Linked DNA regions of Homo sapiens. The protein of the gene in region 3 purifies or fractionates together with the protein of the main gene of each other region. This does not show direct contact. Each region holds a gene or a part of one and is shown on either strand. Other genes may lie near its edges. The genes, in order: P4HA2, CFAP54 and SRMS.

Region 1 (3,650 bases), on a different chromosome or scaffold from region 3:
CAGTCTTTACTGTTAACCCTGTGATATGCTGCATCCGACGATTTACTCGGGCCACAACAGGGTCATCATCTTCCTCTAGCCAGGAGCTGGGCAAAAAGAAAAGGGCAGAGAAAAGAAGACGGAAGGGCAGGCTTCCATGAGGTCCTGAACTCTGTCCCCAGAGTCAGGGCCAGCATGAACAGGCAGTACAGGATGCCTGCTGCAAGGGGGTGAGGAGGTGCCAGCAGGCAGGAAAAGGCAAGCCACCCATCCCTAGGGTAGGCACTGAGAAGTCCTGAAGTTGGGGCTTGAGCAGCTACGAACCCCTGCTCTTTGCTTACCTTTTGGAAACCCGGTAGCTGGCGACAGTGAGGACTCCTGTCTTGGGATCACGAACGGTGGCTCGTGCAAGCTAGAAGGAAGGAGGAGAGGGAAGACTTGATTTGTTTGTTTGTTTGTTTTGCCTTGAATATTTTCCCAGAGAGCACTGGGACCAGATTTACTGCCATGCTAGTGGAGGAAGCTTTGCAGCCAATGGCTCTAGCCAAGGCCCCAAGATCCTGCAGGCCAGTTGAGGGCAAGAGTCTGAGGCCTCCACATTCCCAATCCGCAATCAGTTCCTGGCTATTGCCCTGCTCGGTCACTGCTCATCCCTTCTCCTCCCCAGGTCCGCTTTGCCTGCAGAATTATGCCTGCCTTGTCTACCCATGCATCTGCCTGACTAGCCCCTTTCCTTGCCAGGCCCACATACCACCCCTGCCTGAGCACAGCCTGCCTGAGCTTAGCTACTCCCACCATTTTCAGACTGTGCCACCATGCCTGAGCCTCCGCCTTATGTACTTCTCTCAATTGAGTCAAGTTCCACCATCCTTCCGAACCTCAGTGGGCTCCTCTGCCAAGAAACCCATCCAAACACTCTCCTGCTGCACCACCTCACACTGGGTTCCCACAGCCTCAAGAAGCAAAGACAGATGGCACAGTTTTCGCTCCCTTGGGATCCTTACAAGTCAGATGATAAAACCAGGAAAAGATTCTGTAAGTTAAAATAAGTGAACCACTGCCTGGAAGCCACCCACTCATACAGGTACACACTACACATGCACTCCCTGCATCTACTTCATCTCCCCCAGCCTCCACAGTTAGGCTTAGTGAAACCCCAAGGGGGACTCGCCGCCCAGAGCCAGCCAACATGGCAAAGGTCCATGTGCTTCAGCTGTGGACTGTCCTCATGACCTCACATGGGTGGGGCCATAGGCCCAGGTACTCCCACCCCAACACACTTCCCCTTGATTTCAATAAATATTGATGAGTGCCTACTTTGTGCCTGGCACTATGCTAGGTAACTGAGACATGGCCCCTGCACTCTTACAACTCAGTCAAGTGGGGAAAGCAGAAAACCAGTCAGGTAACTGCAGCACAGCATGGGTGAACTTACCATCCTGTGGAAGCTCAGGGTATAGTGTCAAGAATAGCTTCCTAGGGGAGGAGACCACCTAGCTGAGGCCTGAAGGGTTAACATGAGTTATCCAAGTAGAGGAACATTACAGGAACAGGGAAAGAGCAGCAATCCAGAGGCCTGGGAATGAAAATGGGTGTTGCAGTAGGTGTGGATTAAAGGTTATGGGAAGTAGTAAGAGAGAACAGGCTGAAGAGACAAGCAGGGGCTAGGAACTAGATGCAACCTTGTGGCCAACGAGAAATGGGGAAGGCTTTATGCAGGGGAGGGACACTCAAAATGTGAATGTAAAATGGATCACTGTGAATACCTCATGGAGAGTTGACTAATGAGGGGCCAGAGTGGGGACTGGGAGGCTAGTGAGGCCACGACAGAGGTCAGGGCAAGAGATGATGGTGGCCCGGGCCAGGTGGTGGCAGAAGGGATGGAGAGGAGTAGATGGACCAGAAGGCTAGTAAGGGGGTGAGATGGACCAACTTGGACACTGTGCTGCTATGGCATGATCTGGTAAGATGGCCAGCACAAGCAGGACAGACGGCTCCCAAGCTCCTACTCATGGCCCTTCCTGAGCTTCAGCTCATGTCAGTCCCTCCCTGAAAACTGCAGCCACAGCCAGACCCCATCCAAACATCTGTGCCTCAGCATTGGCCTGACACCCACAAAGAGGCTCTGAGCAGCTGTGCTCTGCCCCAGGGGAAGCACAGGGCTATTTTGAAAGCAGGCCAGAGACCCCACAGACAGCTGCCAGGCATTCCCCACAGGCCAAGTTAAGCTCATTGGCTCTACTTCAAAGCCAGAATAGCATCTGTCCCTCACAGTCTCCGGAAAGGAGGGGTCAGCTTATCTTTGAATAGAAGCCATGTTAAGAGCCAAACATGTTTGCCAACCTTGTTTGGCTCTTTGCATGGCTTCTATTCAAATATATCTTTTCCTAACACTACCCTCTGGCCAGCCACACACATGTGTACACATATGCACACATGCACAGAGAAATGTTCTCAGTGTCTGGAACTGAAGAACGGGTAAGAAATCTCTCAGGAAATCCTGGCACAACCAACAAAGTAGTTTTCTTTCCTGGAGGACTCTGGAGCTGAGTAGAAAGGGGAGTCCTAGTCCCCATTCTCCATATATCTGGCTAGCCCCCTTCCTCAGCCACATCGATGATGCCAACCACTGACTCAAAGCCCTAGATGTCCTAGTACCTCAAGCCAAAGCTGTTCCAAGATGAGGTCCAGGGGCCAGGATAGGAACCTATTTCAGGTCTCTCCATGAGTGTCGGGCCTCCTGGTCACCTCGGCCCCTACAATTCTATTAGGAGCAGAGCAATAGAGAATCGAGCTAAATCCTCCCTCCCAATCATCAGTGATGGGATATGGCAGCAAATAGGTCTCTTTGAAAGATGTCAAATGGGGAACAAATCTTTTATGAACTAGAAACAGAAGAATAATTTTAAAACATGGCATATATACAAAACCAACAGCCAACTGCATTCTTAGCAGTAAAATACCATAGGAATTTCCAGGAAATTCAGGAATGAGACAAGGATGCCTATTCTACGTAATTATGCTCTAGAAGTTCTGGGCAATTCAATAAGGTTATAAAAACAAAGGAACTACAAGTATCAGGAGAAAATAAAATTTTCCTTATTTCCAGGTGTTAATGCTATCCAGGCAACCAAAGAGAAATCAGCTAAAAACCAAAAAAGAAATAAGTAAATTCAACCACTAGCTGCAATCTGTATGAGTTTGCTTTTTCATAGGTAAAACAGAGACAGTGACATCATTATGAGCAGCTGTTCATAACTGTGACATAACACTTAATATATATGTTAAGCACTTAGAAGTTCCTGCCACAGTTAAGAATTCAGTAAACATTAGCTCTTACTATGAAATGTATTTGTAAAATCAATAGTTTGGCATATAATAGTAAACTAATAAAATAATGTAACCAGTTAAAAATAATAATGAAGAAATAAAGTAAATTAACAGTAACAAAGAAACTACCAAGGAATAAACTTAAGAAATGTTCAAGGCTTATATGAAGAAAACTTAAAAAGATATGGAGAGACCTGTCATGCCCTTGGATGAGAAGACCCAATATTATAAAGATATACATTCTCCTCTAAGTCATTCACCTCATTTACAGTCCTAATCAGGAGCTCCACAGGACCCAGCTTCATAGCATCCTATGGAACATTTCCAAAAAACTCACCCAC
Region 2 (2,889 bases), on a different chromosome or scaffold from region 3:
AAATTTAGGATACATAAAGCACCTAGAACAATGTCCAACACATACTGGATGCTCAATAACAGGTAGCTCTTACCATTATTACATTCTTATATTATTACATACATCTTCGGGGGAAGTTCGTTTCTGTCTAGAAGGATCAGAGGTTATTTATTGTTTTGTTTTGGTTTGGTTTGGTTTTTTTATGGTAATGATAGGAGTTCATTTCTGGTGATAGCAGAGTGGCTTTTATTGAACTACCATTTGCCAATAACAATTTTGAACTCTGGATCAAAAAACAGTGCAAACAATCATAAAATCAGAATTAAAATGATGTTTGAAGTCCCTGGGGAATGACTAAAAATAGGCAGAAACCAAAGGAATGGTAATCCTTGAAATATGGAAACAAACTAGGTGAGGTCCACATTTAAACAGCCTATTCTCTGAGGACACACCTCATCTTGCAAAATACGTAAGGGACAGAGTGCAATCAGGAAGAGGCTGAATGACTGAACTGAGGATTCAGAAGTCAGGGTGTGGGTCTGCCAGAGTAGTTAGAAATTAAGGAGGGAATGTTTCAACAAGGAGGGAGACAGTGTGGGGAGCCCTAAAATCTGTGCACAAATTCTCCTAAAACTGTTGGCTGACTACCAACAACACATGGACATGATGAGACTCCAGAGAATCCAATGGAAAGTTATAGCTGAAAGGCTCAAAGAACAAAGCCTCAGAGATTTCAACAGCTGCATGGTACTGGAGAGACAAATTTTGTAATTCAAGTCCAGTCAAGGAAAAGGGACTTAATAAATTATTTGTGCTTTTCATTAAAACCCTAGGAGGGAAATACCTTAAGAATAAGGATTTTAGAACCAAGGACTACAAATGAGGCCTAACAGCAAAGCAAAAATAGGCCCACCCATCAAACCTCCATAAGATAAAAGTGGTTGTCAGTAATTTAACTGTATGCTAGAACAAAACTCAACGACGTTGCCCACAATGTACAGTAAATAATTAAAAATTACTTTATATACAAAGAAGCAGGAAAATATCATCCACAATCTAGGAAAAAAACAGTCAACACATTTCCAGAAGTTCCAGGTATTAGAATTAGCAGATGGAGACTTTAAAATAACTATAATATACATGTAAAATAATCTATTGAAAAAGATTGCTATAATGGATAAAGAGATGGGGGATATCAGGATACATATGGAAATGGAAAAAGAACCAAATGGAAATCCTTAAACTGGAAAAATAGATCTGAAATTTAAAAATTCATTGAATGGACTTAGCAAATTAGGTGCTACAGAATTTTTTTTAAAAAATAGTACACTTCTGGACAGATCAGTAGAAATTATCTAAGCACTGAGAAAAAAATGATTTTCAAAAATTTCAGAGCTATGATGGCCTATTCATGTTTCGACATGTGTGAAACTGAAGTCTAAGATAGGAAGGGAAGTTAGGAAAGAGCCCCAGATAGGAAGAAATTGAAATCCTAGATAGGAAGGAAAGAGTCCTTTGAAAAAAGGATGGCAAAATTTTTTCAGATTTGATTTAAAATATTAACCACCTTTGGATTTAGGAAGTTCAATGAACTCCAAGCATGATAAATAAAAAGAAAACCACACCCAAGCAAATCATAGTCACAGTTCTGAAAATCAAAAATAGGAAAAACATATTAAAATCAACCAGAAGAAAAAACACAAAGTCCTAAGGAAGAGGGCAATAAGAGTAAAGGCTGACTTCTCATCAGAAACATTGGAGACCAAGTGATAATGGGTTGCCTTCTTAAAAGTGCTGAAAGAAAAAAAAAGTCAACCTATTAATCTAGATGACTTACACTAGACTTACATTTAACCATATTATTAACTATATTAAGTGTAAATGGACCAAAACTTTCATTTGAAAACAGAGATTGTTCTATTTTAAATAAAAGACACCAACAGATTGAAAATAGAAGGATGGAGAAGTGGAGACCATGTAAACACTGAACATAAGAAAGCTGGTGTCGCTATATTGTCATTAAGGTATATTTCAAAAATGGATACTGCCAGAGGTGAAATAAAACATTTTATAATGATGAAAGCATCATTTCATTAAGATGACATAGTTCTAAATGTGTTTCCATTTAATGATGAGACATTTTATTTTTTAACATCTAGTACAGTAATTCCCTTTAAGGACAGAGGTGCCTTGATTAGAAAGGTATTTTGATAAGTCTGTTGGAGTAGGTGGTCTCTATGAGCCATTGATGTGGGGTAGCTTTGATGCTTCAGAGGAGCAGGTAGAATTACTTGAGACAGGAGATAGGGTCACAAATCTTCCCAGTTTTTCCAGAACTGAGATTGACTTTCAGTGCAAAATCTGGGACTATCCCCAAACTAAGACAGCTCCAGGCAAACTGGAATGGCTGCCTATCCTACAAAGAGAGGAATTTATTTACTTTGAAAATTGGAGAAATAAAAGAGAAAGAGAAGAAAAGAATAGATAGCCATCAGATGACAGAAGGTTGTACAGTGGATTAAGTGACCCATTACAGTGATCCCTCAAACATTAAGTAAAATTACTAAACTCACAAAAATGATGGTTGTAAAATGTGTTTGAATGTTTGAGAAGCTAGTGATGAGGTAGAATGGTTGAAAAGTTGCATGCATCATAAACATGGTATTTCTGGAACAAGGATCATGAGAACATAAGTTTTGGGGAATTTGTAGGAATCATGGGAATAGTTTTAGACTTTCATAGGTTATGAAATGGGAGGTTTGAGTCAAGCTTGGGGATAATAAGGGAAAAAGAGCTGAGATTATATCTGAATCTTACAACTGTATTAGTTAAGAATCATTTGGTTTTGGATAATAGAAAATCTACCTTTAACTGGGTCATACACTAAAGGAAATTTATTTGTTCATGTAA
Region 3 (4,229 bases):
GGGGTTGCTGTGCGAACGTTCAAAGCATCCTGCATCCCATGCTGGAGAGTTGTGCCCAGTACAGGACGGCCCTAAGCCCACTGGCGTCTGTTCGCACAGACACCCCCTCGGAAAAGCCAGGTGCAGGTGAGACCTCTCTGAACACGGTGGCAGGGTGGCAGGGAGCTCCCAGGTGCCCACTCCTCAGATGCCCACACACGAGGAGCCCACACCGGGTGTCGGGAGAGGGGCCGGCTGGGTCTCCCCTGTCCAGGTGGGCCGCCCACCAGGTCACATCTACTCATTCCTGGGAGCCGGAGGCATCCTTGGAAGGAAGACAGAAATGCTCCCAGCCCCACCCCGTCTGCATAACTCTGCTGCTGAAGTCCAAGGCGGGGACTCCACACCTGACTCAGCTTCCCACCCTGGAGCCTCCCACTTCCTGGAGCTTCCTGGGACCCGGAGAGGGATGCCTGCCACTCCCCTGCCCCAGGGCACACCCCGTAAGCACCAGGAGGAAGAAGCAGAGTGAGCCGGTGTCAGGGTGGGGCTGAAACCACCTGGGAAGCGGGACTAGGAGAGGACCCGAGGTGGGCCTCAGAGTCAACACAAGATTCGGGGCTGGGGCACGGCCATGCCATCCTGGCAGACTGGGACTGGGCAAGACGGAGGACACAGTCTGGCACCCCTGCCCCGGTGACCTAGGGGGCAATGGGGGCAGCAGGAATAGAAACTGACATGACCAGGGCCGTGGGGCTGGGCTTAAGTTGAAGGGAATGAAGATGGAGACAGGAAGAGGTGTGGGACCAGGGACAGAGAGGCAGCGGCCTGAGGCACTGACTCCATGGACGCTCTGTCCATGGAGCTCCTCCTGCAGCCAGGGCCCCTGCCTTCTGGGGTCTGCTGGCAGGGAGACGCAACCCTCTCACGTGTAAAGGGACTCAGGTCCCTCCCAGCACCGTGGGGTGTGGGGATGAGACACAGGTGTTTCCCCAAAACATCGCCAGCCTCCTCTGAAGCCCACATCAGGGCTTGGGGGTCAGAGGTGAGCCCCTGTGGGATCCTGAGATGCAGAGGATGTGTCTGAGGTCTCTCCCTGGGGCGTGGGGCCAGGTGTCTGGAGCTAATGACACCTGAGTGTGGTTAGTCTTTTAATCTCCAGCCTAGGCAAATAGTCATTAGCTTTGCCTATGGACCGCCCTGCTCCACCACGAGCCCTGCCCTCCAGGAACTGCTGAAGGGGTCTGTCCTCCACACCTGGGGTGACTGTGAGCCCCTTCCCATCACAAAGGCTGCTTGCCCCCCAACCACTGCTCAGGACAAGCGGGGCAGGTGTGGGGTGAGGGCCTGGGGCCCCTCAGAAGGCCCCTTCCTGTGACTCCGGCTTCACCCGCCCATGCAACCCCCAGGACGATGTGTGAGTGCCAAAGGGCCCCCAGGAGGCTGGAAGTGGCCCTGAGCAAGGCTGACCCCGAAGGTCTCCAGGGCTCAGGCCTTGCCCAGCTGGATGCCAGACCAAGGCAGCCGCTCAGAGCAGCCGCACTGGGCATCTGGACTAGGCGCCTCTGCAACCCCTGCTCACCTGCCCTCACCCAGAGCTCCTGGAGCGTGGGCCCCTGTCTCAGCCCCCAGTCCCAGCCCCTGCTCACCTGCCTTCACCCAGAGCTCCTGGAGCGTGGGCCCGTCTCAGCCCCCAGCCCCTGCTCACCTGCCCTCACCCAGAGTTCCTGGAGCATGGGCCCCTGTCTCAGCCCCCAGCCCCCAGCCCCTGCTCACCTGCCGTCACCCAGAGCTCCTGGAGCTCCTGTCATCTGGTGCCTCCCAGCCCCCAGCCCCTGCCCTCCAAGCAGTGACCGATCCATGAACACTGGACTCCCTGTGTGAGGGCGGGAGGGCCTGGCCAGCCAGGCAGGGTCCTGGAGGAACCGCCTGCTGGGTGTCCAGCTGGTGCAGCTGATGCTCCCCCCCACAGGACCTGACCACGCCTGCCGGAGCCTCCTCTCCCTCTCGGCAGCCCACAGCGGACACTGCTGTTTTCCTACCACACCTGCCGGCCCGGGGCCCATCAGCTGTCCCTGAATGAATGCGTGGATGAACGAATGAATGAACAGATAGCCACGGACATGCGATTTCCAACTCAAAATCCTGCCGTTGTTCTGGACTCCCCAGCTGGGGGCGAGGCAGGCTCTGACTCCGAGGCCGAGGTACTCACGGTTGGTCTGAGAGCGTCTCAGGAGAAGCCTTGGCCACGTGGGTGATGGGCACGAGCCCGGCGCTGGGCTGGCCCGAAAGCCTGCGTGCGAAGATGTAGCCGCCCCCCTCTTCGAGGGCACAGAGCCTGTCCCCGCGGCGGACACTCAGCTCCCCGCCACACCGCGCCGTGAAGTCATAGAGCGCAAGGAAGAGCTGAGGGAAGGGGCTGCAAGGCTCGGCGGGGAGCGTGGGCACTGGGTCAGTGTTGGGGTCCAGGGACCCGGGGGTGCCATGGTCCGGCTCGCCGCCCGCCGGCCAGATCTTGTCCCAGAAGAAGGACAGGAAGGCCAGCCGCCTCCTGAGGAACGGCTCCATCCCCCGGGGTCACCACGCTGGGCCCGAGGGCCATGGGAGCCCGCGAGCCCGGAAGAGGAACTGGCAGGGCCGGTGGGACCCGGTGTCCAGCGCTCCCTGCCCTGGCCGTGGGGTGACAGGGGACCCCGGCCCTGCGGTCACTCAGAGGTCCCCTGGATCCAGGAGGCACACGGTTCCCACCGGCGTCCGGGCTGGCGTTGGGGCTGGGTGGGGCGCAGGGCGGACCCCCTGCCTCAGGCACACCGACAGCACCTCCTGTCCTCGACCTCCTTGGCGTCTGGAGTGCACCGTCCCCTCCCCAACCCGACGGCAGAGGGCAGCTTGGGCTGGGGCGGGGGCGGGCTCCAGGAGGGGCCCGAGGAGGGCGGGGTGGGCAGGGCCAGCCTCTCTCCCGCCCTCTGCAAGGCCCAGGCAGGCGGAATGGCTCTGCCCAGTCAGGCCTGGCCCATGCCCAAGGGCACCACAGTCCAACAGCCGCCCGTGCCCACGGAGAAGTGGGGGTTCCACGGAGAAGCGCTGCTGTTCAGCACCTGCAGTGGTTGCCAAGCCTGAGCTGCACTCAGGTGAAAAATTGCCTGCTTATTTAAGTGTTGGCCAGATATTTTAACATCATTAACCCTGCACCAGGTGCCGAGCCTCCGGCCTCTGCAGTAAATTCTGAGGACAGGCGAGTGAGGGGGCTCTCAGCACCCCGGCTTTCATGCAGTAAAACGAGATGCTGATTGCAGGGAGCTCGGCCGCAGGCCAGGCACCCAGATGCCCCATGCTGCCCGATGACCGGCTTCTGAGTCAGTCAATGCCCAGGCCATACCCAAAGGCCACTGCGGGGAAGTGGAGGCTGCGGACGCCTGGCCCCAGTTCAGGGGGATGAGCACACGGAGAAGGGGCGGCGGGTGAGTCCCTGGCTGGGGACCTCCCACCCTCTCCCTGGACAGCGCCAAGCCCCCGCATGCTGAAGCAAACTCTGCCCGCTCAGGTAGGTCCCCAGATCGGGGCAGGACTGGGGGAGCAAATCCCAGCAAAACCCAGCAGCACGGTACAGGGTCCTGAGGCAGGAGGATGGGGTGGTGGCCATCTGCAGTCTCTCTCTCCTCCCACATCCCCTCCGGGTCCTGAGTGGGGTGGGGTGGGGGCCATCTGCAGTCTCTCACTCCTCCCACCTCCCCTCTGGGTCCTGAGGCACGGGGGTGGGGTGAGGCCATCTGCAGTCTCTCACTCCTCCTGCCGGCCTCCCCCAGCAGCCCCTTCCGCACCTGGGTGGCCTTCAGGGAGCCTCACGCCCCTTTCCCACATCTCACACGCATCCATGCCCCCACTTCATGCGTGTGGCTGAATGCATCCCTCCAATAGGCGTGACCAGTGTCCAGCCAATGACAAGCCCCTCGCACCTGCCTGCCCTGGAGTCACAGATGGGCTTCTCAGAAACCTCACGTCTGGGGACTGGTGTGTGCATTGTGGGGTGGCAGTGACACCCGTGGCCTGGCTCTCAGGGCACCCCAGCAGCCAAGCTGTGTCCGGGCTGATAGCCTGGAGCCAGCAGGGGCCCTGGGAGACTGGACATCGCCAGGCTCAGGGCAGGCTCTGCACCAGAGAGGTGCCCTGCTGGGGGTGGTGGGGGGTGTTGAGAAATGTGGAGAATTGTAAATACTACATTGGGGGTGGCCTTCGAGGGGCCCCAGCGC

Evidence for each region.
Region 1: the proteins of SRMS (region 3) and P4HA2 purify together in Homo sapiens (affinity purification with mass spectrometry; one large-scale study listed by BioGRID and IntAct). This does not show direct contact.
Region 2: the proteins of SRMS (region 3) and CFAP54 purify together in Homo sapiens (co-immunoprecipitation; one large-scale study listed by IntAct). This does not show direct contact.

The regions. Positions count from the first base shown.
Region 1 is NC_000005.10:132,203,762-132,207,411, forward strand, and holds part of P4HA2 (prolyl 4-hydroxylase subunit alpha-2 isoform 2 precursor), read right to left. Parts: intron 392-3,650; coding exon 321-391; intron 87-320; coding exon 1-86. UniProt on the Homo sapiens protein: Catalyzes the post-translational formation of 4-hydroxyproline in -Xaa-Pro-Gly- sequences in collagens and other proteins.
Region 2 is NC_000012.12:96,870,517-96,873,405, forward strand, and holds part of CFAP54 (cilia- and flagella-associated protein 54), read left to right. Parts: intron 1-2,889. UniProt on the Homo sapiens protein: Required for assembly and function of cilia and flagella.
Region 3 is NC_000020.11:63,544,917-63,549,145, forward strand, and holds the start of SRMS (tyrosine-protein kinase Srms), read right to left. Parts: upstream 2,834-4,229; 5' UTR 2,548-2,833; coding exon 2,192-2,547; intron 1-2,191. UniProt on the Homo sapiens protein: Non-receptor tyrosine-protein kinase which phosphorylates DOK1 on tyrosine residues. Also phosphorylates KHDRBS1/SAM68 and VIM on tyrosine residues. Phosphorylation of KHDRBS1 is EGF-dependent. Phosphorylates OTUB1, promoting deubiquitination of RPTOR.